4 linked regions of the Homo sapiens genome follow. The protein of the gene in region 1 interacts with the protein of each later gene in a biochemical or structural test. Each region holds a gene or a part of one and is shown in the gene's direction. Other genes may lie near its edges.

Region 1 (7,027 bases):
TCTAAGATTTAGTCTGAATGACCTGCAGCTCTGAAATCTCAATGGTCAGCAATTCTGGAATAATGGCCCATACTACCTGACACATGTGAAACTAATCTGTGGCAGAAAGACAATTTGTAAATGTATCATTGTATTTGTCTGCTCTCATGCTGCTATTAAAGACATACCCGAGAATGGGTCATTTATAAAGGTTTAATGAACTCACAGTTTTACATGGCTGGGGAGGCCTCTCAGTCATGGTGGAAGATGAAGGAAGAGCAAAGGGATGTCTTACATGGTGGCAGACAAGAGAGCCTGTGCAGGGGAACTCCCATTTATAAAATCATCAGATCTCGTGAGACTTACTATCTCGAGAACAGCATGGGAAAGACCCACCCCCATGAATCAGTTACCTCCTGCCAGGTCCCTCCGATGACATATGGGAATTATGGGAGCTACAATTCAAGGTGAAGTTTGACTGGGGACACAGTCAAACCATATCGATGATGTGGAGTGGACCTTTCCAATAAGTACTATATTTGCTATTCTGAATGCCTGTCCAAATATCAATGTACATAGCAGAGAGAATTAGCAGAGTAACTGGTAGTTCCATAAAAAATAAAGAAATCAAGGCAAATTACTCTTTTGCAGTTTTTTAAACATTTTGTATTTCAATAGCTTTAGGAATACACGTGGTTTTTGGTTACATGGATGCATTGTATGGTGGTGAAGTCTGAGATTTTAGTGCACCTGTCACCTGAATAGTGTACACTGTACCAAATAGGCAGTTTTTCATCCCTCACCCCACTCACCCTCCCCTTTTCTGAGTCTCCAAAGTCCATTATATTACTCTGCCTCTGCATCTCCAGAGCTAAGCTCCCACTTACAAGTGAGAACATGCAGTATTTGATTTTCCATTCCTCTGTTACTTCACTTAAAATAATGGCCTCCAGTTCCATCCAAGTTGCTGCAAAAGACATTTTTTCATTCTTTTTTGTGGCTGAGTAGTATTCCATGGTATATACATACCACATTTTCTTTATCTACCTATCAGTTGATGGGCACTTAAGTTGATTCCATGTCTTTGTGATTGTGAATTGAAGGTAAAGGATTTTGATTAGGTTGTACATATTAATGTATGAAGTCATCCCCATATTTCTAAAGTGCTAAACCTTTCCTATGCCCAAATATTTGCAAGTGTCAGGCTCAGGATTTCTCTTCCTGCAGTGGCAAGTTACTGCCATTAACTCCATCTCTTTTTCTTTACTGTGTACCATTGATCTTAGATCTTTGCTTTGGGCTGCTACTTTACACAGTGCACCTAATTCTATCTGGGAAGAACTTAGGGCATGGCTTGTGTGTGGTACAACCATTAATTAAAAATGAATTAGCAATATCTGATGATGCCTTTTCAAAGATTGGAAGGAACCAAACCTTCCCTAGTTTTCCCTTGGAGCAACATTTACTACCTGGTTTAAGGATAAAGGAAAGAGCTCTCATGCTCTTGGCAAATTACAAGATGGATAGTAACAAAAAAACCCAACAAACTAGAAATCATGTTTTGCCATAAAAAAATGGTATAATCAAAGTGATGTTTTTGTAAGCTCCTGGTGCTGAATGCAGTGGATGGAAACTGACAGTGGCTAATGCCTGTGTCTTCTTGCCCAGGCCAGTGAAAGACGTGTTCACCTCGTCGTGTCCCGCCAGGTTCGGCAGCGGAGCCCTGACATCTTTCAGGAAGCCGGCTGGAACAGCAATGGCAGCTGGTCCCCAGGGCCAGGGGAGAGGAGCAACACTCCCAAGGTGAGGCCTCTAGGGCAGGTCGCCTGCTCCTGCAAGGGGCTATTTCTTGGGAAGGCTGCTTGTTTTAACATGTCTAAGTGTCATCTCTGGACTTTTTTACTTAAAGAAACACTTTGACTTGTAAAACTAAAAGCCCAAAGTCCCATATTTAAGACTTGGAGAGATAACAGGTGTCTCCCATCCAAGCAGGAGAGAAGAAGGTGCAGGAAAGTTTTGAAACCTGATCATGCAGACCTCATACAGGGACCTGATTTCTAGCCTAAGCCAAATAAATGGCATGTTTTTACCAAGAGTCATCTTGTTTGAGGACTTATTTTATTCACTTTGAAATGAAGCAAGCAGTTTGCCTGGTTTCTGGCTTTTGAATTTTTCAGTCTGCCTAGAAATGAGTGATTTCCCCGCTACTTTTAGTTTTTGTTTGTGTTTGCCGAAGGGCCCAGGAAGATAATTTAAACACTTGAAGCTCATGTAACATTAGGGAGTGGTGGGGATTGGGGCAAACCAGAGAGCACATGTTATATGGCATTCAAATCCAGAAAACTCTAAAACACTGTGGATCTGTGGGTGGAATTCATTCTTCAGGCCACCAGTTTGCAGCCTCACTTTAAATGAAGTGACTCAGCCCAATTTGTACTTCTCTCTGTGGCTTCTATTAGAGGCAATGCCTTAACCTCTTCATTTGGATGCGTGTTTAAGCAACACAAACCTTGTTTAGTCCAAATTAAGAGTCCTATAGCTTTGGCTTGGCATCCTGTTGTGATGCTGATGAGCTTCTTTCAGTCATCTCTCCTGAGTTCTGGTTTCATGGCATCACTTGTAACTAAAAAAAATTCTTAAAGGTAGCTCATTCTTCTTGCAACAGAAAGTAGGGAATGCCCTTTTCTTTCTACGTCAATCTATATGTTGGTTGGAATAGCTTACAAATTGAGTTTTTGAGTAATATATAGAGAAACAATATTCAAATTTTTTATTTTGGAACATCTCTGCTTTATACTATGTTAATTACATAGCCTACAAGGTTATACACCCCTCCAGGTTCTCCAGCCAGCCAAGCCTCATAAATCCATAAATTACCTGTTTCTCTACAATAAGGAGTCTAGACAGACCAGATATATCCTGCTAAAACATTTTATGGATAAGGACTCCGTGATGTCTTTTTGCTAGTAAATGCTTAATGTTTAAATTTAACTGATCATCTTTATTAATGAAAAACTAGTTTATTAGCTTAATTAATTAATTGAAGTTTTTATCCAATTAACTAATTTTAGTTGAATTAACTAGAATACGTCATATTCTAAGTCATCAAATTATGGAGAAGGTAGCCTCCATCTGCACTGTGGTTTTAGAATTCCTTCCACCTCCTCATCATGAAAGAGCTGGGAGGATCTGGTCACATTTCTGCTGCAACCCTCTGTCATATGTCTTAATTCCTGGAAACGTGCAAACTGACTTAGTCGGAATTGTAATTATTTCCGTTTTAACTTATATTCTATCTGACTTCTGAAATATCCTCACAAAAAAGTAACATATTTAAAAAAACTGAGACATATATGGCTCTTTGATTATTTCAGTTTTTATATTCTTACTAAAATCTTGTTTGGTTTAGGAAACCAGGTAGCTTTTTAAAAATAAGAGCTTAAACAATTCAAAGAAATACCAAAGAAGACAAAGCAGGATTTGTGGGACAGAAAACTTTTAGCCAATTAAAAAAGTTAAGGAATGCTAGGCATCAAATTTTGCATGGTTTACCTCTGTGGGGAGGCAAGGCCTATGAGCAGAAAGAGTCATAGAGCGACTAAGTGCACATGGAATGTTTATTTCTGATGTAGGGTTTTGAGGTACATGGGTAGGTCATTCTGTTATTCTTTATGCTTTTTTACTTGTCTAAAATGTTTTATTCTAAATATCCAAAGCAAATATTCTAAAATGGAAATACATCTTATAGTTTGAGAAATATTCAGGTACCCATTGTGTTTTTAATTAGCTTAAACTATTTTACCATAAATTATGTTTTTAAACATCAAGGAACATTGTAAGGTGTCCAAAGTAGGGTGAGGAGAATGGCGAAAAAAGATAGATAGAAAAGTCATCTCTTTCATACGTAACTCTCCTCCTCTCCAGCCAAAGTCAGGTAACCCTGGGTGTGAAGCTTTCACAGATGATTTTCTTTTTCCATTGCTGACATTGGTCGCTTTTCTGGTTAAGAAAGGAAATGGTCATGGACACTGGTTCATGAGACAGGACACATGCACACATGCCATATTTGTGGTATTTCAGCCATTGCATCCAGCCCCTCAGTGCACAACTAAACATCTCTTGCTCACCGCAGGCAAGGCTGCCTGGTAAGCACTGAGCAGGTGTGAAAGAAGACTCTATAAAATATGGTTACTTTTTTTTAACATAGAAAAGTTTCTGATATTTATAAATGACAGAGTGTTTTTGAAATGCTGACTCACTACTATCAGGAATAAATGACTCACTTGAGAAATTTTGGGTGCAGTTCACTCTGTGTGCTTAAGATTCCTCCATGGCCAGGAGCAGTGGCTCATGCTTGTAATCCCAGCACTTTGGGAGGCCAAGGCACTTGGAGCCAGGAGTTCCAGACCAGCCTGAGCAACAAAGCAATACTTTTTCTCTATGAAAATATTTTAGAAATATATTTTTCTAATGGTCTGTAATCGGTTCCTTCCTCCATTTTTACTCTTTCCTTTTGAAGTGTAAACTTTATCTGAGTTAACCTGTAGAATTTGGGACAATGTAACCCTATTATGGTTGGGAGTGGATAAGGTGAGGGTTCTTTCCAGGTGTCTTTCTCTGTGATTTCAAGAACCACCATTGTATTTATGCACTTTGCATAATTTATGCAGCTTTGGTAATTTTTGCATTTAGAAAATGGAAACCCACTTTGCATTTTCTACATTCAAAAACTACCAGAGTTGTGAATTCATGTGCCATGTTTTTCCATCTGTGCCTTCAGCCCCTCCATCCTACAATTACTTGTCATGAGAAGGTGGTAAATATCCAAAAAGACCCCGGTGAATCTCTCGGCATGACCGTCGCAGGGGGAGCATCACATAGAGAATGGGATTTGCCTATCTATGTCATCAGTGTTGAGCCCGGAGGAGTCATAAGCAGAGATGGAAGAATAAAAACAGGTAAAAAGTAAAGGGATTTTAAAGGCACTGGGGTGGCAGAGAATCAAGAGAAATTAGTAGCTTGTTAGGTGACTATTTTCAAAATTAATGAGAGAATGTGGGAGTGATCGGCCAGGACTTTTGTTACCCATTGACCATGATTGGTTTGAGTATAGATACTAGACCAGGTTCCACTTTTCTTAGTTGCAGGCCAACTTGCCTGCAAGTAAAGCTAGAATCTCCAAACTGTTCCAGGAATTAATAGAGAACTGCTACAGTTATGAGCAAGTTACCTCTATTAAATGGCATAATGTAGTTCCATTCATTCTAAGTGGTTCTTTAGTGGGTTGATCCGGTGGTGGAATTCATGAAATAATTCATGAATTATTCAATTATATGGGTTAGATAGAAAAAGTCATTTGATAGATTTGATTCAATGAATACTCATTAAGTGAAAGTATCATGCTGGATACTTTCCCAGAGTGAAAATTATTTCACTACTTTAAGCTCATGTATTCTGGGCTACTTTGAGTAAATAAAGGAAGATGATATCAAATTTGCCTCTACAAATATGTATCCTTAATAATATTGTCAATTCATTCAAGAGGGTAGGTAGCTCAGATGGGTGAGGAATTATGCCATTTAAAAGTCCAGGTTCAAGAGATAAACTGTGAAGTTTCCCAAGTACAGCTGCTGAGCCTGAGGAGCCACAGGGGGATGGTATCTTAAGAGATTTAGTCAGCTGTCTGAAAGATGCTTCTTTCGGGTCAGAAAGGACTCAAGGCCTTTCTCTTTTTTCTCCTCCTGTCTTTTTGCTCTTGCTGTGGTTATTCTGTATAAGAAAGTTAAGCAAAAGGGGACAGAAAAAAACAGGATGAAGATAAAAAAATAGAAAATGGAAATAGGGGAGATGTATATTTTAATTTCTCTTTTCTGCAAAACATCTGGGTGGAAAATGATGAGGCCAAACAAAGTGGCTTGTTAACAAATGACTTGTTAACAGAACATAAGCTAGAGGATTATATGATCTATATGGAAATGATCCTGCACATAGTAGGCGCTTAACCAATAGTAGCTATTTTCACCTTAGCAATGAAAATGTTTTTCTTTCTGCTTCTTTAAGAGTGCAGCTCCAAGACTCCTCTGCCAGACACTCTCATGGGTAGTTTCTTTTCATTCAATCCATATTTACTGGAGGCCTACTACATGCCTGGCTCCGTGCAAATGCTGGAGCTTTTGCCAAATCCTCCTACTTTATGCTAAAAACAAGAAACAAAAGAGTGAAAAAGTAGGTTTTCTTTGATTAAATAGTGAACAAGACTAATTTTCCTCTCTCACTCCCTTCCTTCCTTCCTTCAGCGGTATTCTTGTGTAAAACACCGATAGCTGTGCTTTAGAAAACCCCAAACAAGTCTTAACAGCACCTTGGAATGCACACACTGTTTACCATTTGCTATGTGAGCACCCAGCCTCCCGTCAACAAAGAAAACCTTTGCCCTCTCTGCATCCCTGCAATCCCAGTCAGCCCCTATCCCCTTGCACTTTAAGCAGAAGTCCCTGTTTGTGCTCTCACTAAAGATAGCTTCTGCTTCTCTGGCCATCAGGTGACATTTTGTTGAATGTGGATGGGGTCGAACTGACAGAGGTCAGCCGGAGTGAGGCAGTGGCATTATTGAAAAGAACATCATCCTCGATAGTACTCAAAGCTTTGGAAGTCAAAGAGTATGAGCCCCAGGAAGACTGCAGCAGCCCAGCAGCCCTGGACTCCAACCACAACATGGCCCCACCCAGTGACTGGTCCCCATCCTGGGTCATGTGGCTGGAATTACCACGGTAAGTCCAAACACAACATCCCTGTAGGGGCGTGGGAGAAAACGATTACATTTCTTAAACCACTCTTTCACTCTCTAGGGCTGATTCATGGCACTAGCATCTTAATTAGACCCAGTCTTGGTTGTGGGACTGTGAAATAATTCTCTCTTCCCATTTGTAACTGAAAATGCATGCGGACATTCTAGGGCAAAGACAAAAGCCTGGATGTGGAAATACTGTTTGGCGTTCAGGTTGAGGAGCTCACAGGACTGCCATGTACAGCTGTGTAGGTTGTTCAT
Region 2 (7,027 bases), on another chromosome or scaffold:
AAGGGTTCCTTTGTGGTAATTAAACCAGATTCTTCATGAGAAAACCTCAAAGAGGAAGCCAGTATTGGGTGATGTCAGTGACTGCTGTCTTTTCTGCAGCGTTGCCCTCCTAAGATATGCTCTTCTAAAAGAAGTAAAAGATTTTCATTTCTTATGGCATTGTTATTAAGAAGGGTAAATACATGATTTTAAAGTAGGAATATTGTGTTAAGAAAAATGAAATAATCGAACAAGTATGGTGCCAATATAGCTGTCAACAAAGTGTTTTTTTAAATTACTTTTTTATTATTCATATATTTTTTTGAAACAGAGTCTCACTCTGTTGACCAGGCTGGAGTGCAGTGGCACGACCTCCCAGGTTCAAGCGCTTCTCCTGCCTCAGCCTCCTGAATAGCTGGGATTACAGGCGTGTACCATCACACCCAGCTAATTTTTGTATTTTTAGTAGAGACAGGGTTTTGCCATGTTGGCCAGGCTGGTCTCGAACTCTGGCCTCAAGCGATCTGCCCGCCTTCGCCTCCCAAAATGCTGGGATTACAGGTGTAAGCCACCATGCCCAGCCCAAAATTACTTCTTTTAATCATTACTCTGTACCTAGTTTCATGTTTATTAAGTGGCAAACAACTACATCAATATATATTCCTTAATGCATTCTTGGAATCAGTCTAACTAGTCCAACCCTCCGTATCTTAGCTTCATCTAGGTTTACATTGTTTCCAGATAGAAATGCTTTCTTTAATAAGAGGCTAATTAAGAATAATTTAGTAATTATATACAATGGGTATTCCTGAAGCATTTTTGCAGTTTAAACATTTTTTTTGTATGTTTGTATGGTATTGTTTTCTAATTTGTTTTTTAGTGTTAACTCCTATTTTGAAAGAAAAAAATTCTCACAGGTTTATGGCTAGTTTCATTTTTTTCCCCCTTTTTAAAAAAAGTTTTTAAATGTAAAGTGTTTTTAACAAAGTTACACTGTATGTGGTTTAGTCAAAAAGCTTCAAATAGCTGATCTTTTTTTTTTTTTTTTTTTTTGAGACGGAGTCTCGCTCTGTCGCCCAGGCTGGAGTGCAGTGGCGCGATCTCGGCTCACTGCAAGCTCCGCCTCCCTGGTTCACGCCATTCTCCTGCCTCAGCCTCCCGAGTAGCTGGGACTACAGGCGCCCGCCACCACGCCCGGCTAATTTTTTGTATTTTTAGTAGAGACGGGGTTTCACCGTGTTAGCCAGGATGGTCTCGATCTCCTGACCTCGTGATCCGCCCGCCTCGGCCTCCCAAAGTGCTGGGCAAATAGCTGATCTTGAAGAACAGCAGTGCCTGCCTGACCCTACACTCCTCCTGATTCAGCCCTGTCAACCTGGGATTTCTTTTATCCATAACCTGCAAATTTCCTATGCTTCTCTGCTGAATTATATCCTGTGTTTTTAGGTATCTTGTGTCTTATTATTTCTTGATTTACATCCCGTTTTCATTTAGGACATCTGGTAGCTCCCCATGAATCGGTGCACAGAAGATATATTTTTTTGAGAATTTGCATTTCCAAAAATGTTTTCATTTTACTCATACTTGAATGGCCCTTTTTGGTTTTCTGGGTTACAATTCTCATTTGGAAACAATTTCCCTCCAGAATTTTGAGAATATCAGTCACTGACATTGTTTTTTTTCTAGCTTACACTGTTGCTGTTGAGAATTATGAAGCCTTTTTGACTGCTAATTCTTCATATGTAATCCGTTTTATGTTATCTGTCCCCCCCACTGTCCTGGATCCTGGTATGATCTTCTGTATGTCGGTAGCATTCTGAAATTTCACAATGACATGAGTGGATGTGGGGATCTTGGAATCTGAATAGTTCCTGTTCTTAAATTTCTGAGACATTATTTTAAAAATTACTTTGTTGATGATTTTCACCTCTTTTTCTCTGTTCTCCATCTGGAATCCAATTATTTGAATGTTGAACTTACTGATTTCTCATCTACCTCTTTTTTGCTTGGTTTTCTTATTCGCTATCTTTTTTCTGAGATTTCCCCAGCTTTATCTTTCAACAATTCTATTGAGTTTTTATCTTGTTTTTAATTAATTATCTTTTTAAAAATAGCATCTTTAGTCTCTTGGAGTGCTAGAAATGTTCGGTATCTAGGTGTTGATAACACAGGTATATGCACATGTAAAAACTCATTGAGCATTTAGTATGCATATGGTGATTAATTATTAACCTGCTTCTGTATTACAGGTTCTCAACTGACAGTAAACCTCAGGCTAAAGACTTGTTTTATACCTTCCAAAGCTAGTCTACCATCTTTAGAAGCTGGGGAAGGGGGGTGGGCAGCTGCCAGTTGGTACAGAATTAAGGAGGGTATCTACGAGTCCACCTGTTTTTTACCATTATTATTTAGAGACAGGGTCTCATTTTGTTGCCCAGGCTGGAGTGCAATGGTGCCATCATAACTCACTGCAGCCTCAAACTCCTTGGTTTGAGCAATCCTCCTGCCTCAGCCTCCCAAGTAGCTGGGACTACAGGCGTGGGCCACCACATGTGACTTTTAAAAGTTTTTTGTAGAGAAGGGGTCTCACTATATTGCCCAGGCTGGTCTCAAACTCCTGGTCTCAAGTCATCCTCCTGACTTGGCCTCCCAAAGTGTTGTGATTATAGTTGTGTGCTAACCCTTCCAGGCCTACGTGCTTTTTAAATAACTTGCAAGCAGTTCATTGGGGCTAAGTCAGTTACTTTCTTCTGCTTTCCAGCTTCTGAAATTTTGTTGCTGTTGTCTCTTCTGCTGTTATTTCCATTCTTGCTGGCTTGTATGTCTAAAAAATATCCATTTGCTATTATGTTAGTGGGCTTGGAAAGGATAAAAACAATGTGTATGTTTAAGCTACAATTTTAACCCAGAAGTCTATATTTTTTTTGTTAAATCAAGTTTGCATTTCTTGGTTAAATCCAACATAGTTTTGATGTAGTATTTTTAAATAAACTGATGGATTCAGTTTGCTAATATTAAAGTTTATTTCAATTTTTGCATCTGATATAAGTGAAGTTGGCTTGTGGTTTTCCTTTTTCTACTGTCCCTTTTGATTTTTTAAAATTAAAGTTATATGAGACTCATAGTACCTTTTCTGTTCCCTGGGGAAACAGTTTGTATAAGATTGAATGGTAAATTCTTTGAAAGCTTAGTAAACTCACCTGTAAAATCATCTGCACTTTGTATTTCTAGTAGGAACATTTTAAACTGGTGATTAAATTTCTTCATTCATCAGTTTTCTTAGATTTTTCTAAGTCTTTGACCATTTTGTCTTAAATGATTGCATAAAGATTTTATTTACTTACATATTTTTTCTCTTGTATCTGTAGTTTTGTTTCCATTTTTATTTGTGATATTGTCTTTATTTTTTCTTGTGTAATCTCATCAGAAATTTGCCTTTTTTCTATTAGTCTTTTTAATGAACCAGCTTTTTGCATGGTTGAGTATTCAGATTTCATAAATCTATTCTTATTCGATAGATTAGAATATGTTATGGAAAAGGTGAAGATTGACTTGTTTACTAAATTCTAAACTTTCAAGAGCTAAACTTTCAACCCTTGAAATTTGAAAAATATATTTTTCATAATAAAATGATATGCAGGTGCTCATCATTATCCTCAAATGCTGCTGTTATTTAAAACTGGAGGTTTAAGAATAGTTTAGATCAACTTACGGATGATAGATGTACATGAATTAAGAAATCTTGTGATCCTTTTAGTATAGGCTTTTTGATTAAACAAAAAAGGTTCTGCAGTCTTAGAGCTATACCTGTGAGGGAGTCCAAAGCTAAACAGATCTTTGATTCAATCTCTTGTTTTGTGTTCTTACCATTAAACTTTCTGTCTTAAACTTCTGAGGCTCTTTCACTAGGTTTTGTGCTGTTATGCTGCATATACTTAAGTATTTTGTGATTTGCTCTACTCATAAATATCTACCACCTCAGGTAAACCTTTCCCTGACTTTATTTTACCTATTTAGGCCTTAAAACATTTATACCTTAAATATTTGTAAAATGGCTGAATCTTCCTAGAAAATAGAAAGTTTAAAATTTTCTCATTTGTATGTTCATCATTATCTCCTTAAGCACATATCTTTGAGCATGTGGTAAAAGGTATAAGGTGAATTGGTCAGTGTAGGGGAGCAATAAGAACAGCATGCTGTTCTTTGGATGATGATATATGGGTAAAATGTTCTTGATTATCTCTTCTTTAAATTTCCTAATGTTTTTTTCTTCAGGATCCTATAACTCATCTCTGATACATATAATTAAATATTTAATAAGTTGTAGTCCAACATGCTCAAATGGAAAAATTGGAAAGTTACAATTTTCAGGTTTAAAGTTTGTAACATTCCATCTTTACCCTTCAAATTCTTTTCATCCTCTCCCTTCCACAGTATAGATAGTAAGACTTGTTTTAGTATATTAGATCTTACCTCCCAATTGAAATGGAAATGTAGCAGAGGTGTTCATAGTCCAAACTATTTTAAATTCTGTTTTTAAAAGCAAATTTCTTTCAAGCTTTTTCCCAAAAATTTGGAAGTCATTTTAAAAAGTATTGTGGTTTTATTGTTTTCTATCCTTTTTAAATGAATTTTTTTCTTAGATCTCCAAGAGGTTTGTCTCATTCTCCTTGGGCTGTAAAAAAGATTAATCCTATATGTAATGATCATTATCGAAGTGTGTATCAAAAGAGACTAATGGATGAAGCTAAGATTTTGAAAAGCCTTCATCATCCAAACATTGTTGGTACGTTTAAATTTGGTAGCAGTATCTGGTATATTATTTTGTTTATTCAGAAACAGCTTATATGCTCTCTTAACTGGTTTCACTAATAGAAATGAAGAGGATGGGGCTGGATATTTAATGGGTATCAAATTAATGTGATTGGTCTAAAATAAAAATTTGCATATAGTATTTTTTGATGCCTAAGTATATAAACTTCATGAGAACAGATATAATAATTATGTTGCTAGTTCTATGAAGATTTTAAGAATATAAAATGATCTTCATTTAGATAATTTAAATCCATTTAGGTAATTTCCTGGATTTCATTTTTCATTTTTAATACAAGTAGGGCTGGTGAAACTATTATATTTAGGGAAGCAAAGGAAAATAAAAGTATTTTAATTTGTGGTACTACTGGCAAACACTGAAGGCATTTTAAATGAGATCTACTGAATTAGTCTTGTAAATAGTAGCTGTTTCATTGTATATTTGTCAGCGTTAGTCCAGATCCATATTTTCAATCACGTTACTATAAAGGACTTAAATATTATTGTTCTTCTCTATATTAGTGAAGAAATGTCATGTTTTCTTTAAGGTTATCGTGCTTTTACTGAAGCCAATGATGGCAGTCTGTGTCTTGCTATGGAATATGGAGGTGAAAAGTCTCTAAATGACTTAATAGAAGAACGATATAAAGCCAGCCAAGATCCTTTTCCAGCAGCCATAATTTTAAAAGTTGCTTTGAATATGGCAAGAGGGTTAAAGGTAACTATGTCATTATATTTTAAATGACTTCTGTTTTTGTTCATATTTTAAATGAACAAATAATCACTTTGCAGGACATCTTTGAATGTGGATGGATATTGTTACTTGTCAGTTCCAAAAAGGGGTTAGCGGAAAACAAAATAGAGGCTTACATTTCTGCTTCCAAATTACATTCATGTGTAGCTTAATATGTTCTGAGAAATGTGTCATTTGGCAGTTTCATCACTGTGCGTGCGGACATCATAGAGTGTACTTACACACACCTAGATGGTAGAGCCAACTACACACCTGGGCTATGTGGTATATATAGCCCAGTTCTCCTAGGCCACAAACCTGTATAGAATGTTACTGTACTGAATACTATAGGCAGTTGTAACACAGTGGTAAGTACTGTGTGACTAAACATATCAAAACATAGAAAAGGTAAAATCAAAATATGATATTATAATCTTATGGGACCACCGTCGTATATGTTGTCCATCATTGACCAAAACATCCTTATACGTACATGTGGCCCTAGTCATTCATTGTCCCACATGGTCTCAACAATTTATGTATGCTTCACTGAAGATTCCAAAATTATTTCTAAAAATTACTAGACTAGCCTCAAAATTGTGGTATCTTTTGAAATCTGCAGTTGTATCTTCTGATATAAAGTATGTAGGATTAGTTAACTTACCAAGTTAACCAATTTATAAGTATAGTTAACTTATAAGCTGTCGGTATATATACATACTTATATATAAAAATAGTTAACTTGGCTGGGTGTGGTGGCTCACGCCTGTAATCCCAGCACTTTGGGAGGCCAAGGCAGGCAGATCACGAGGGCAGGAATTTGAGATCAGCCTGGCCAACATAGTGAAACCCCATCTCTACTAAAAATACAAAAATGAGCCGGGCATGGTGGCGGCACCTGTAATCCCAGCTACTCGGGAGGCTGAGGCAGGAGAATCGCTTGAACTTGGAAGGCAGATGTTGCAGTGAGCCAAGATCGCGCCACTGCACTCCAGCCTGGGCAACAAGAGCAAGACTCTGTCTTGGAAAAAAATAGTTAACTTATAATTATTTATTTTATAAGTATAAAAGGTTAGCAGAAGTATCTATTTCTAAATAAACTTTTAGACTTCTGGTCAGTATGGCAGACTGAGATAACATGGGATGTTCCCTTCTCTTGTTTCAAATACTTTGAAATGCTGGGCACAGTGGCTCATACCTGTAATCCCAGCACTTTGGGAGACTGAGGCAGGCGGATCACTTGAAGCCAGGAGTTCGAGACAGACCAGCCTGGTCAACATGGTGAAACCTCGTCTTTACTAAAAATACAAAAATTAGCCAGGTGTGGTGGTGCCCGCCTGTAGTCCCAGCTACTTGGGAGGCTGAGGCAGGAAAATCACTTGAACCCAGGAGGCGGAGGTTGCAGTGAGCCGAGATCGTGCCACTGCATGCCAGCCTGGGCAACAGAGTGAGACTCCGTTTTAAAAAAAAAAAAAAAAATTTTGAAACGCTGGACAAATGTAA
Region 3 (7,027 bases), on another chromosome or scaffold:
TTCTGGGGTTACTGTGATGTCCATCATTTCCCAAGCCCTTTGCTAAATATTCCTGTCCTTCTCTATAAGCCTGGGGTTGAATACTATTATCAGCCCCATTTTACAAGTGAGGAAACTGAGGGCTACAGATGTTAAATGTCGTGCCCAAAACCACACAGCTGTGAGTGGATAGTAAAGCCAGGATTCACACCCTGGCCTGCCCGACTCCTTCCTGTGACTGGAATCCCAACTCTCCTGGAGGTCACGGCCTATTGCTCCAGTGCCTGCATTTGGCCTACACATATATTTTGTTTGGCCTGCAAGATAAGGGGTGTTTTTTGATTTGAGGTATGGTTTAGTAAGGTTTGGTAATTTGGCTGCTTTTAAAAACACTGGGTCCGAGTTGCTATGTAGTGACTGTCAGCTGGAGCCAGGTAGCTGCTGTCCTCTGTGGACTGCTTGGAGGTTCCCACTCTGCCTGGCTTCACTCATTACTTGCCCAGCCTGTTGTGATTTTCCATGCGGTGAGATGTGAGACTATACTTTTCCTCCCCCAACATACACTCCTGAGGGTCAGGTATCAGAATCACCTGTGGGGCTTTTTAAAGCTGTACTTCCCCTCCCCCACTCACCATCCCTACTATTCTGCCACTGGCAGTGGTGAGACAGTTTCCTATAGGAATTTGTAGTTTCTCTATGTTGTATTAGGGTAGGAAAAAAGATCAACAACTTGAGCCGGGCGTGGTGGCTCACGCCTGTAATCCCAGCACTTTGGGAGGCTGAGGCAGGTGGATTGCCTGAGGTCAGCAGTTCGAGACCAGCCTGGCCAACATGATGAAACCCCATCTCTATTAAAAATACAAAGAATTAGCTGGGCATGGTAGCAGATGCCTGTAATACCAGCTCCTTGGGAGGCTGAGGCAGGAGAATTGCTTGAGCCTGGGAGGCAGAGGTTGCACTGAGCCGAGATCACGCCATTGCACTCCAGCCTGGGCAACAAAAGCAAAACTCCATCTCAGAAAAATAAATTAATTTAAAAAAAAGGTCAACTTCCATATCCCTGTGTCCCAGTAGTGTCATGTGTGCCACACTAAACTGGAAAGACTATGGAATTCAGGTCAGAACTGGGTTCTGGTCTTGCCTCTGCCTCTAACCTACATGCAAGTGAGTTGTCCTCTCAGGCTGGGCGTAGTGGCTCACACCTGTAATCCCAGCACTTTGGGAGGCCAAGGTGGGAAGATCACTTGAGGCCAGAGTTTAAAACCAGCCTAGCCAACAGGGTGAAACCCTGTTTCTATAATACAAAAATTAGCCAGGCATGGTGGTGCACACCTGTAATTCCAGCTAACTGGGAAGCTGAGATATGAGAATTGCTTGAACCTGGGAGACGGAGGTTGCAGTGATCCAAGATTGTGCTGCTGGCGAGACTCCATCTCAAAAAAAAAAAAAAGAAAATTGTCCTCTCAGAGCTTTGGTTTTCTCCTCTGTAAAATGGAGCTAATAATTCCTGTCCACCCGCCGAGGTGCAGTGGATGGCTCCAGTGAGATCACGACTGGTAACATTCTTTGTAAACTGGAAGTTCACTTGTGCAGGGTAGTTGGTGTCCTCAGCCAAGCTGAGCATCCCTGACCTCTAGGTAGAGTCCACATTCCTGGGGGCCTGGCCTTGTGCTGTGGGCATACGATTGTGTTTGAAGGAGGGAGCCCACGGGACTTTCTCCAAGGCTTGGATACAGTGTGTTGCTGGGGCTACCCTAACAGTGTGGCCCTTTCCCCCTCATCTACCTGGCACTCTTCTCCCTATGGAGGTGGACTGTGCTGGGCCATGTCTACCTACTCCACGGGCTCCACGGGCATTGCTGGAGGGCTTGGAGATCAACTGAGACTATGAAAAGACTATCTGAATAAAACCAACTAACCTGCAAAACTCTACTAATCTAACCTGCAAGGTATCTGTCTCTGTGTTTCAGAGGTGTGATTTGTTCATTCATTGCACAAAGTTCACTTAGCATTTGCTCTGTGCTAGGCCCTGCACTGGGTGCTGAAGGTGAACGGGCATTCCACAGACATAGGGTTATGATCGTTACCGAAGGAGCCCCTGGTGGCCTGAGCTCAGGGCACCTGAGGGATGCAATGGACAGTGAGGCTGGAACAGATGATGGCTGTGCCTCCCATGTTAGGGTAGGGACTTTGGGCTTTATCTTGCAGGTAGGGAGCCTTTGAAGGTTTTTTGACAATGCCCAGGGAGGTTCCATTAGCTTAGGGGAGGAGGAGCAGGAAGATGAGAACATGAGGAGTTTAGTGTGGGATGTGTTGAGTTTGAGGCTCTGTGGAACATCCAGTGGTTGCCTTGTGGTAGGCAGTTGGATTTATGAGCCAAGACTCAGGAAAAGTTCTGGACTAGGGTTAGAGATCTGAGAGGTATTGGTAGTTGATAGTTAGAGGATTGACTATGAATGGAACTGTACAGGCCAGGCACAGTTACTCACACCTTTAATCCCAGCACTTTGAGAGGCCCAGGCAGGAGGATCACTTGAGCCCAGGGGTTCAAGAGCAGCCTGGGCAACATAGCGAGACCCTGTCTCTGCAAAAAATGTTTTAAAAATTAGCTGGGTATGGTGGCACATGCCTCTAGTCCCAGCTGCTTGCGAGGTCGAGGTGGGAGGATCACTTGAGCTCAGAGATTGAGGCTGCAGTGAGCCATGAATCATGCTGCTGTACTCCAGCCTGGGCAACACAGACCCTGTCTCAAAACAAAACAAAACAAAAAAGCCTTACAGAGTGTGGGGAGGAGAAGAATGAAATGTGGGGTGGTTCAGCCCCCTCAAGTTACAGATGAGCAAACAGGGCCCAGAGGAAAGCCGTTTGCTTATGGCCTCAGCAGTAAGTGTCATTCATCCATTCATTCAACAGATATTTATTGAATACCTGCCATGTACTAGGAGCTAGTTTAAGTGCTGGGATACAGCAGTGAGCAAAACACTCAGGGAGCTTACATGCCGGTGGGCAGACTCAGAAAACAAATTAAATATTATGTTAAGTAGTGGGAAGTGCTACAGATAAAAGTAAAGCAGTGTATTCTTTGATTTTAAAGATAAGGAAAATAGGGCCAGGCGTGGTGGCTCACGCCTGTAATCCCAGCACTTTGGGAGGCCGAGGCAGGCAGATCACTTGAGGTCAGGAGTTTGAGACCAGCCTGACCAACATGGTGAAACCCCATCTCTACTAAAAATACAAAAATCAGCCAGCCATGGCGGCGGGTGCCTGTAATCCCAGCTACTTGGGAGCTGAGGCAGGAGAATTGCTTGAACCCGGGAGGCGGAGGCTGCAGTGATCTGAGGTCGTGCCACTGCACTCCAGCCTGGGTGACAGAGGAAGACTCCATCTCAAAAAAAAAAGACTTTTAAGATTTTGACCTAAGTAACAGGAAGGATGGAGTTGCCACAAGGTAAGATTATGTGATGAGTAGGTTTTAGGGGAGAATTGAGAGTTCAGTTTTGACAGGTTAACTTAGAGCTACCTGTAGACACCTACACAGAGTCAGTAGCAGCAGCAATAAGACCATCATTTCAGCCCCTTCCCCTTCTCTCGGATGCCAAGTCCATGCACCCGTCCCTCTGCACCCTGTCTGTGTAGCTTTCTAATCTCTGGCCGCTGACCTGGGCCACTAGCCACCTCCCCACACTGAGAACTGACCCCAGCCCCCTGCCCCTAGGTTGTGCACAGGGACCTGAAGCCCAGCAACATCCTGTATGTGGACGAGTCCGGGAATCCCGAGTGCCTGCGCATCTGTGACTTTGGTTTTGCCAAACAGCTGCGGGCTGAGAATGGGCTCCTCATGACACCTTGCTACACAGCCAACTTTGTGGCGCCTGAGGTGAGTGGCCCAGCCTCCTCAGCTGTAAGAGTGAGGGGGAATTGGAGGCCTTGTGCCCCCTCCCAGAGGCCCCACATTAGCCGGGACTCCAGTCTCTGTGACCTTGGCCCAGCTGGCAAGGGAAGATCTAGCCTGTGCCTGGGACCCTTGTCCTGCCCTTGAGGGGAGTAGCAGGAAACATCTGTGGCGACTTTCTACTGCCCCCCCAGACTGACCACCTCCCCTGCCCTGTTGCCAGGTGCTGAAGCGCCAGGGCTACGATGAAGGCTGCGACATCTGGAGCCTGGGCATTCTGCTGTACACCATGCTGGCAGGGTGAGTGCCCCTGGCCTGGACCCTTCCCCACTCCTGCAGCCCTAGCACTTGGGCTGAGTGGTGCTTGTCTGATAGGAATGGCTCAGCCAGCCCCGCCCCAGGATGGTCTGGAAATAGGGACATGCTCCTGCCTCCAGGAGCTCTACCTTGGGAGTACCCCATCTGAGGGGGAGACACAGTCTCCCACCGCAGCCCCAGCCCCAGTATGGAGGCCAGAGTCTGTACCCAGACCGTGCGGGCTTTTCTGCAGATATACTCCATTTGCCAACGGTCCCAGTGACACACCAGAGGAAATCCTAACCCGGATCGGCAGTGGGAAGTTTACCCTCAGTGGGGGAAATTGGAACACAGTTTCAGAGACAGCCAAGGTGAGTCTGTACGGCCTGCGTGGGCTTATTTGGAGGAGGGAGGCAGGGTCCCATCCTAGGGCTTTTCAGCAGTTCATGAACAGCCTCATTTCTCCAAGCGGATGTTCCACAAATCCCTGTTGCTGTATTTCTCCAAGCGGAAGATTCCCAGGCAGACCACCACCACCTCCGTACCTTGTTGGGGTAACCTGGTGATCATTCATTGGCCCTTCTCATTCTGGACCCTGTGGGGCACTGAGGGCTGCATCATCACAGTCCCGGCTTTGTGGAAACGTAGTGTAGTGAGGGATACAGGTTTGCACACAAGGGGCAGAGATGCCTGGAGGCACAGATAGGCGGACGCTCTTGGCCAGGGGTGTGGACCGTGGAGACACAGAGCAGAGCAACTGGCCATGCCAAGCAGAGCCTCCTCGGAGGAAGTAGCATGTGAGCTTTCAGTATTAGCAACAGTTTTTGGTCATTGGGAACCTGTATGCCAGACAGAGTTGAACCCTCTATGTACGGCCGGCCACCTCACATCAACCTGTGAGGCAGGGAGTGGTTATTCCTATTTCTCAGCAGGGAAACTGAGGCTCAGAGAGTTGAAGGAACTTGCCCAGGGCACTCATTTGATGAGTGCAGAAGGCAAGTTTTGAACCTGAATCTGTCTGAGCCCAAACCTGAGGCTTTTCCCACCTTCCCACATGGCTTTTTGAAGGCAAAGGAGAAATGGAAGGGTGTTCCAGGACGAAGGGCCTAGAGCAGCAAAGGCCCAGCGACAGGAACCTTGGCTGTGTGCGGGGAGCCCTGGAGCAGAGTGGAGAATGGATCCCAGGGGCTGCCGCAAGGGTTCAGGCGGGAGCTAGCAGGAGATGGTTGCCCTCCTGTGCCCCATCAGGGGCCTGCTCCCCTGCAGCCCTCCCCCAACCCCCTTGCCCACTGTGTCCCCAGGACCTGGTGTCCAAGATGCTACACGTGGATCCCCACCAGCGCCTCACAGCTAAGCAGGTTCTGCAGCATCCATGGGTCACCCAGAAAGACAAGCTTCCCCAAAGCCAGCTGTCCCACCAGGACCTACAGCTTGTGAAGGTATGGCCACCCTTGGGCTGCTGGGCATCTGGGGGGTCAGCCCAAGGTGGCATGGTCAGGGACTTGTGGAAGAGCCAGGCAATGCCATGTCTGTACCAAGCACCATGAGGTGGAACATAGGAGAAGAAGACACAGCCCTGCCGTCAGGGAGCCTAACATGCTACAGTGTCACGGTGCACTCACAGCCCCCAATCCTCTGGAAGGCACAGCTGCTGACCTCTGAACCCTCCAGTCTGATGGGGGAGGCAGGACCCATGACCATAAAGGACCACTGAGGCTGGATTAACAGTGGGCTAGGCTGGGCGCGGTGGCTCACACCTGTAATCCCAGCACTTTGGGAGGCTGAGGTGGGTGGATCACGAGGTCAGGAGTTCAAGACCAGCCTGACCAAGATGGTGAAACCCCATCTCTACTAAAAATACAAAAATTAGCCAGGTGTGGTGGCAAGCGCCTGTAATCCCAGCCATTTGGGAGGCTGAGACAGGAGAATCGCTTGAACCCTGGGGGCAGAGGTTGCAGTGAGCCAAGATTGTGCCATTGCGTTCCAGCCTGGGTGACAGAGTGAGACTGTATCTCAAAAAAAAAAAAACAACAAAAACAAAACCAAAAAAAGTGGGCTGTGGAACACTGAGAGGGGCTGGCCTACCCTTGGGGCATGGATCCCCTCCCCGCTACATCTCCCACCATTGTGACCTGACCTCCCCACTTCTCTTTCAGGGAGCCATGGCTGCCACGTACTCCGCACTCAACAGCTCCAAGCCCACCCCCCAGCTGAAGCCCATCGAGTCATCCATCCTGGCCCAGCGGCGAGTGAGGAAGTTGCCATCCACCACCCTGTGAGGCACCAGGGCATTCGGGCCACAGGGCGGTGCTAGCTTGACACAGTCAGCATGCTTCCCAGAGGGAGCAGGCCGGAACCACAGGGCCAGAGGGAGCTGGAACCCGAGGGGCCGGGGAAGCTGCCAGCCCAGAACACCCCTAATGAGGGTGTGAGAAGTGCCTTCTCCTTCCCCAGGATGGACTCTTCTCGGCTCAGGCTCTGCTGGTGGAAAGCGATTCACTGTATAAACTTTTTTTTATGAAAAAAATGGCATCAACCACCATGGATTTTTACAAGATCCATTTGCCTTTCTGGGAGCAGAAACAGCCATTGCGGCCCCAGGAGGGGAACTGAGTCACGCTGGGGCTCTCTGAGACTCTTTAGAGCAGCTTTGGGATCCCACCCTGGGGACCCCCACGATTGGCCACCTGTAGCCATCTGCACACACCTCCGAGACAGTCCAGTGTCACCTCTCTCAGAGCATCTGGCTGTTTAGCAGAACTCATTCTATCCCCAATCAGCTCCTTTTCCGTTCTGTTCTGCTGGGAGTTCTAGAACCACTTCCTGCTACAGGAGGGGTCTCATGTCCTGCTGGCTTCC
Region 4 (7,027 bases), on another chromosome or scaffold:
TCTTAGTCCTTAGAGGTTGCATTAAAGTAGAAAAAAAAATTGAACAGAATGACAGTATATTACAATTCCCATTGAAGTGTTGCATTTGAGCTTCTGGGATTTCTACCTTGGGGAGAAGCTTCATATTTAACCCTCTAGAACCTGCCACCATGACTACTAGAGTGAGAACTTGGGTTCTTGGCACCATCACTGATGCGGCTCTGTGGCTCTTCCCATACGATAGGAATGAAGGTAGAATGAGGCCTAGGAGAAAGAAAGGACTCTCATTCCAGAAGGAGTCTTGGGCAGCTGCCCGTGGGAGCCAAGAGTGGACCTAGTGATGTCAAGCCAGGAGGAGCTACAAACCACAGGGGAAAAATTAAAACTAAGGGATAGCTTGAAGGGATAGACTTTATTTACAGATCTGGAAGATGGAGATGGAAACGGATTCGGAAAGAATGAAATCAGTAAACATGCCAAAAACTAGCCTGTAGCCTCCTGTTTCTAGGAGAAGATGCCTTTGAGAAACAGCATGCTGTCATGGAAAAGGCAGAAACAGGGAGACAGGAGCTTCTGACTCTTGTTCTGACTCTGCCACTGATGAGCTGTGTGGTTTCGGGCCAGTTCCTTCCCCTCTTCATGCCCCATCATCCTCATCTGTAAAAGGACAGGTCAGACTAGACGATTGCCCTAGTCCCTTTCCACCTTCCACTGGGATTCTAAGGCAGTGGTCATTATCCTTGAGAAACCAGTCACTCTCCCTCCATGCCTAGATTCAGAAAATGCCCACTGCGCCTAGTTCAGTGATAACAAAGGGGTTCTCAAATTGTAGCCTATAAGTGACTTAATAATAGATTAATCTGCAGTCAAGAAGCTTGCTTCAGGACAGGGAGATCGTTCTTTGGACTGAGACAATTCCAGGACAATTTCAGCCTGACAATACTAGGTTTATGAGTTTTCAGTTCAATCAACATCCATGTATTGCTGCTGTGGAGCCCAGAGAGCACTTCCTGGAAATTTTTAGCCCTGAGCTGATGAAGAAAGCTTTTTCTAGGATCTGTGCACCACCCCTTCACCTACAGACACACACGAGCATGGAAACATCCATGGTAGTTCTACAGAAGTGATGAAGGTTAGTATGGGTTGATGGAAGTTGCTCACCTAGAATGAGAGAAATACTACCTCCTTTGCATGCTGAAAGCAGTTTGACTGGCTTACATAAGAGTGGGCCCAGGCCCAAGATGGTGAAACCTTCGTACTGGTGACTCAATCTGCAGACTTGGATGGGACTTTCCCTGGAACCTTAGCTGGGCTGCAGCTTTATTTCCTAGAATCTCCTCACCTGTTTGTTTTCAGTTTAGAGTTGCCGACAGATAAATCTGCATGAGATTTAGAAGGTGGAAGTGAAGTAGTTGTCTTAAAAAAATTTTTTTTAACCCTCGGAAGGTCCGTGTAGGGCAGGCTCTGTTATAGCTTGTGCATGACATTCCTGATGTGCTGACTCACCTAACTGGCATGTGGCAGTGACTGGCCCACAGTTTCTCCAGCTCCCCACATCTCCTCCTCCAGCTTTTCCAAATCCTGGGGCAGGTGCATGTGCAGCTCCTTGGGGAAGGCTCCTGCTTATTCTGCAGATTGTCTTGCATCATCAAGATTGGTGCTTGTGAGAGAGAGATAGGTGCAGCTCTAGTTTGTCCCCAGTCTCTGTCACTTTACAGCCGCCTTCCCTCCCAACTGTCAGAACAGCTGACTGCAGGCCCAGTGTCAGACGCAGAAGCAGCAGATTTACACAGACGGCATGACTAGTGCCTCTCATTCCCTAAGGTCTGATTCCTCTGATCAATCCTTAATATTACTCATAGTTGTTCTGCTTCTCCCATCACAGGCTTTTAAATATTGTGTGGGTCAGAGAGAGTCAAAACAGGTACCACTGGAGAAACTACACCCCATTCTGATTCCCAAAGCATAGCGGCAGATGTCTGGAGAAGTAGTTCCTTGGCCAAGGTAGATGGACAATGTCATGGTGCCATAATCAGGCAAAAATAAAGGAATCTGTCCTCACTACAGCACAGCCTGTCCCCAGGCTCCTGATTATTTTTGTTTTTACCACCTCCAAGGAAGACATAGTGTTTGTCACTTAGGATGATGACCGAGCCACACATAGGTAATATAACCCAGTAGCCAGAGGGAGTGGTTTTTAAACATTTGGACAGATCTTACAGTACTGGTCAGAAAGTGAAAAAAGCAGTGTGGTCTTTGGGTTTGAGGTTTTGTGCCCGTGACCGGGTCATGCAGGTTACTTTTGCTCAGTAGTTGATCATTTGTTCTGTTGTTTTTGTTGCAAGAGAGACATCCAGACCTACTCACACCCAAACCTTGATTTCTCCCCCTTCATTCTGAACCCTTCAGTTTATTAGTATTTGCCCATTCGTTTAGTCCACAAATGCATCTGTGCTAGGTGCTGGGGATAGAATTGTGAGTAAAGCTAAACAGTCCCTGCCTCGTGGATGTTTACATGCTATTGGAAGAGACAGACAGGAAACAATTGTGGTAAGTCCAACAAGGGAGAGGTATTAGGTGGTAAAAGAGTGTCTCCTGCCAGCTCTGACCTGCTGAAGGGGTCAGAGAATAGTAGAAACCAACTCCTGGTGAGGGGCTGGTAGAGCAGTGGGCAGGCACTGGCTGGCAGCTCACTGGCACCTGGCGGAACACCAAGAGGTGGGATGGTGGTGTGCCGGGTCATGGTTAACAGCCAGTTCTCAGGGACAAAAAGGCCTGATCCTAGCATTTTCCAAAAAGACCAGAAAAGTCCGAAAGCCCCAGCCCTGCCTGCTGCAGCTGCCTCCACCTTCAGGCCGCAGCTCAGCAGCCTGAACCTTCGGGTGTTTCAGAGATATCTGTTCCCATAATGAAATCCTCACCCATTCAGCCTGAGAAGCCATAGCTTCTTGCAGCAGAAGAGACGAGAGAAGGAGTCTGTGGAAAACTGCCTCTGAAATTCCATAAGAAATTTCTCAAGAAACCTGATTCTCCTTTTAGAAACATTAATGGTAACTTAGCATTTTAGCTTCTACTCTGGCTCTCTCTCCGCCCTTGGTCCTACCACCACCCCCTCCTGAAGTCTGACCAGGTCTCCTCTAGTTGGTAATGGCAGCAGTCAGCATGCCTCTCACCTGTCCATCAGTGATGAGGGGTGATTACTCCCCTTGTCCCTGCAGGCTCCTCAGCACTACCCTGCAACCAGCCATACCCAGGGACACACAGGAGGGAAGGGAGTTAACTGGCTCCATCCAGCTAAGTGAGGGCGGGTGGGGGTCTGGGCAGCAGGCTGTGAGAAGTTCACAGTTTGTCCATGAGCTTTACGCTTCCTGAGAAGAGAATGCAATTAAGCAGGTAGGTGCATTTGGCTTTTTAACACTTCTGTAGTTAATCGCTCTTTCTCTGCCTTCTTTCTTCTGGCCTTGTGCTCCTAGTATCAGCTGTGTAATCTGATAGCTTCATTTTTTCTTTTAAATGGCTGGCATCTCAAAGACTACTATATGCATGTTGATTAGACTTAGAACATTTTGGGTTTTATGTTAGTCTGAATCCAGAATATCAGAGACAACTATTTTCTCTCTCTGCTTTTTACTTTTTTTGTCTAACTCTTCATCTCATAGGCCTCCCAGTAGCATTGGATGCAGGAAAAAATACATTGACGGTGAAAAACAAGCCGAACCAGTTGTAGTTTTAGATCCTGTTTCTACACATGAACCCCAAACCAAAGACCAGGTTGCTGAAAAAGATCCAACTCAACACAAGGAGGATGAAGGCGAAATTCAACCAGAAAACAAAGAAGACAGCATTGAAAACGTGAGAGAGACAGACAGCTCCAACTGCTGATCCATAAACCAGAAGCCTGACATGTTTGGAAGTCCTTTTCAATAAGCACATGATTAGTGTTGTTATATTGGCAAGGGCTGTAGACATTCTGCTCTGGTCACTGTATTCAGAATACAGGTTCTTTTCTGGTGTCACTTTTGTAAGTAGCAACTATAAACATAAGTAAGCTGTTTAGCAAAACACACATTCCTAGTAGGTTTTGGTTTTTTGATCTTTATAAAGATGAGGTTTTTTTCCTAGTTACTGTATTAAGTATGACTTCTTTTAGAAGGTTACAAAAAAATTCAGATGTTGATACCTTTTTAGGAAATGTGCATACCACTCATCAAATGGAATGCTGAAAGTTTGAGGTGCTTGTATATAATCGGATAAACAAAACTGATCAACCCAATGTGATTTTAAAAGCCCCCAAAGAAGCTTCTGTTTTGGGTCTGATCCTCTTGATGGAGAAACTGCAGCAGCATGGAAATTGTTGGGTACTGTGGCATACAAGTTATTTTCTACAGTAGACTGAGATAAACTGAAAACTCAGGAGCTGGCATCAAACTCGTAGTCCCATAGTCAGTGTTAATTACACACATTGTTAACTATTGGATGAAAAATACATGCTATTGATTGTGTCCAAAGCCTCCCGAGGACCTCCGTGGGGATGCTCTGGTAGCCTGAATACAGAACTGAGGTGAAAGTCCAAACCTTGAATTTTACAGTAGTAAGTTGGTAAACCATGTGCTCTGTGCTATGAGTTAATTATGTTTTCCCAAATACTAATGTGGCACAAGTACCATATTTTATCAGAGTTCTTATGTACAGTATGGTGAAGATAAGTGACAAGCACACATTTTTCTTGCTTCACTGCTGTTCTATATTACACAGGTTTGTTGTTGTTTTTTTTAAAAAAGAAATTAAGCAGTAGTTAGTCTCTAAAAATACAATGTTTCAGGCTACCACAGTGAATAAATAGAAATGTAATCAGGGATTAAAAAAAAAACTTATGCAGCTTTTCAAAGTTGATTGTTTCAAAATTGGTGTTTATTTAAAATAAGTGGTAATGTACTTGAATGCACTTTTTATGACAATGATTCAGTAATGGTAATTTTACTATTAAAGAAAGTGAAAGGTTTAGTTTTGTTAGCATGGCTCAGCATGTAGCTGTCAGGTGTTTTTCACCTAAGGGCAAAAGAAAATGATAGTAATAATTGCAGTAGTTGTATTGTATTGTATTTTTGCACGTGTGGTAAGCATAGGCTTGAAGAGGTGGGTAGGCAGGTACATGTACTTCCTAAATTTGGAGATAATTATCTTTCTGTAAGTTCGTTATGCTTGACTGTTTCCATGTTCTCCCAATAATGATTTTATAGTTACTTATCACTTTACTCATGGAGAATTAAAACGTAATGTTTTTCAACTGTATCTTTCTTTAACTGGATAATACTGCTATATGATATGCTTACTACAGACTGCATTAATTCACGAAACGAATTCTGTTATGCTGTAATTTGAACTCTCCTCACCACAACTTATTAAAAAGGCACCAATAGTTTCCCATTAAGGGTCAGTTGTGGTTATTATTAACGTTTCTGGTTTAGTTCCCCAAGCTTGACATTCTTTAATAGAAAATTGTATATGATTTGACAACTTTAGTAATTTTTAATAGTCCCTAAGATGGTTTATTGAGTTTTCTTTCATGTTTCTTTGTGCTGTCTTCCTTCTTGCATCTGTGATCTGTCTGCCAGCATGCAACTCACACACATTTAGGAATATAAAAATATGTACACTGTCTTTCCATATTTCATCACACCATCACAGAATAATATGGTTATCAAAATACCCTCCTTTCTAGAGTAAGAAGTTGCCCTTTGGGTGAAATGTGTTAGCTGGACTAGGGAACAATTAGTAACAGGTATTTTGAAAGTATTCCTGCCTTTTTTAAGCTGCTTACTTTCTCTCACTGTGATTACAAAGCATTTTAAATTAATTTGACATGAAGGTATTTGATGGAAGATATTCACTCACCTTTTTCTGCCTACAGTTTTTCCCTTTTCACTTTGGTTTTGAGGGGGTTTTGCCCCTGGCTGGGGTGACACTGTCAACCAAAGCAAGGGATCCCAAATAGGAAGACATAGGAGAACCGTGCTTATATCTGCAAGGTATGTTCATAGCTATTGCACACACAAAACTTACATACGTCCTGCTTACACAATTTTAAGTTGGAAAAGACTGCATCTTTATGTTTTTGATTTCTCTAAAAGGTTATTTATGCTTCCTTCTGTTTGGGAAAGATAAATTAAGTCTTGTGCGCTATAGAGGATTTTTTTTCTTTAAGAAAAACGAATGTTGATGCATTTTATAGCCCGAGTGAGGAACAGAGATAGAGGTACTTTGTGCCATTGCTATTAAAGAAAAAGAAAATGTCTCTTTTTTTTTCTGGAAGAATAAGATTTTAATTAAAGCACTTGCACCCTTTTGTATGTGAGCTGGTCTCAAACAAAGTCCTCACCCACAGCAGTTTCAGCAGCTGAACAGTCCCATGGAAGTTCTGACTGGCAGGCATCAACAGGGCTATTAGCACCCAGCATAGTTTGCCCTGAGTACGGAGGATGGATGCTTTGGCTCTAACTACTCACCAATAATTGCTCCTTCCTTACCTTCTTTGTTAATGGTAAACTGCTGGAAATGGAGTAGTACAGGTAACAATTATTTTTAATTGTCTTTCCAGACCAGTTTTTGGTTGTGTGTTCAGTAAATGATAGTCTGTATCACAGCCTTCAAGTCTGGATTATTTTTCTAAATGCATACTCTACCTGTTCAGTTACACTCGTTGTGGAACAACATTAGCTTATATACCAGTAAGTTGTCGAGAATGGATAACCATCTGTCATTATCACTGACCTTCAAAGACTCATCAAGCAGTCCCTGCATAAGGATTGGAGTGGTTTGAAGTTTCTCTTCCAAGCACTAACATGTCCCTATCCCACAGTCATTTTAATTTGGTATGTGACTGTTTCTTTCATTTCTTTCACAGATAATATTATATATACAGTTATATAAATATATTTCATATTAAATGTTATATAACACAAGAGAGAGAAAGTATAAGTAGAAAGAGTGCCTAGCACCCTAAGAAATTTAAATTAAAATGCTAATTATCCATTGGTGAGTGCAGTCT

Evidence for each region.
Region 2: of the proteins of LNX1 (region 1) and PBK, one has a biochemical effect on the other in vitro, tested with the Homo sapiens proteins (2 studies listed by BioGRID and IntAct, with this or other methods).
Region 3: the proteins of LNX1 (region 1) and RPS6KA1 interact in a test that uses a peptide from one of them, tested with the Homo sapiens proteins (2 studies listed by BioGRID and IntAct).
Region 4: the proteins of LNX1 (region 1) and SHTN1 form a complex in vitro, tested with the Homo sapiens proteins (2 studies listed by BioGRID).

What each region holds. Positions count from the first base shown.
Region 1 is NC_000004.12:53,476,475-53,483,501, reverse strand, and holds part of LNX1 (E3 ubiquitin-protein ligase LNX), read left to right. Parts: intron 1-1,647; coding exon 1,648-1,782; intron 1,783-4,759; coding exon 4,760-4,937; intron 4,938-6,520; coding exon 6,521-6,749; intron 6,750-7,027.
Region 2 is NC_000008.11:27,820,801-27,827,827, reverse strand, and holds part of PBK (lymphokine-activated killer T-cell-originated protein kinase), read left to right. Parts: intron 1-4,622; coding exon 4,623-4,765; intron 4,766-5,339; coding exon 5,340-5,509; intron 5,510-7,027. UniProt on the Homo sapiens protein: Phosphorylates MAP kinase p38. Seems to be active only in mitosis. May also play a role in the activation of lymphoid cells.
Region 3 is NC_000001.11:26,567,755-26,574,781, forward strand, and holds part of RPS6KA1 (ribosomal protein S6 kinase alpha-1), read left to right. Parts: intron 1-3,694; coding exon 3,695-3,856; intron 3,857-4,094; coding exon 4,095-4,171; intron 4,172-4,421; coding exon 4,422-4,539; intron 4,540-5,469; coding exon 5,470-5,607; intron 5,608-6,324; coding exon 6,325-6,447; 3' UTR 6,448-7,027. UniProt on the Homo sapiens protein: Serine/threonine-protein kinase that acts downstream of ERK (MAPK1/ERK2 and MAPK3/ERK1) signaling and mediates mitogenic and stress-induced activation of the transcription factors CREB1, ETV1/ER81 and NR4A1/NUR77, regulates translation through RPS6 and EIF4B phosphorylation, and mediates cellular proliferation, survival, and differentiation by modulating mTOR signaling and repressing pro-apoptotic function of BAD and DAPK1.
Region 4 is NC_000010.11:116,883,178-116,890,204, reverse strand, and holds part of SHTN1 (shootin-1), read left to right. Parts: intron 1-3,638; coding exon 3,639-3,861; 3' UTR 3,862-7,027. UniProt on the Homo sapiens protein: Involved in the generation of internal asymmetric signals required for neuronal polarization and neurite outgrowth.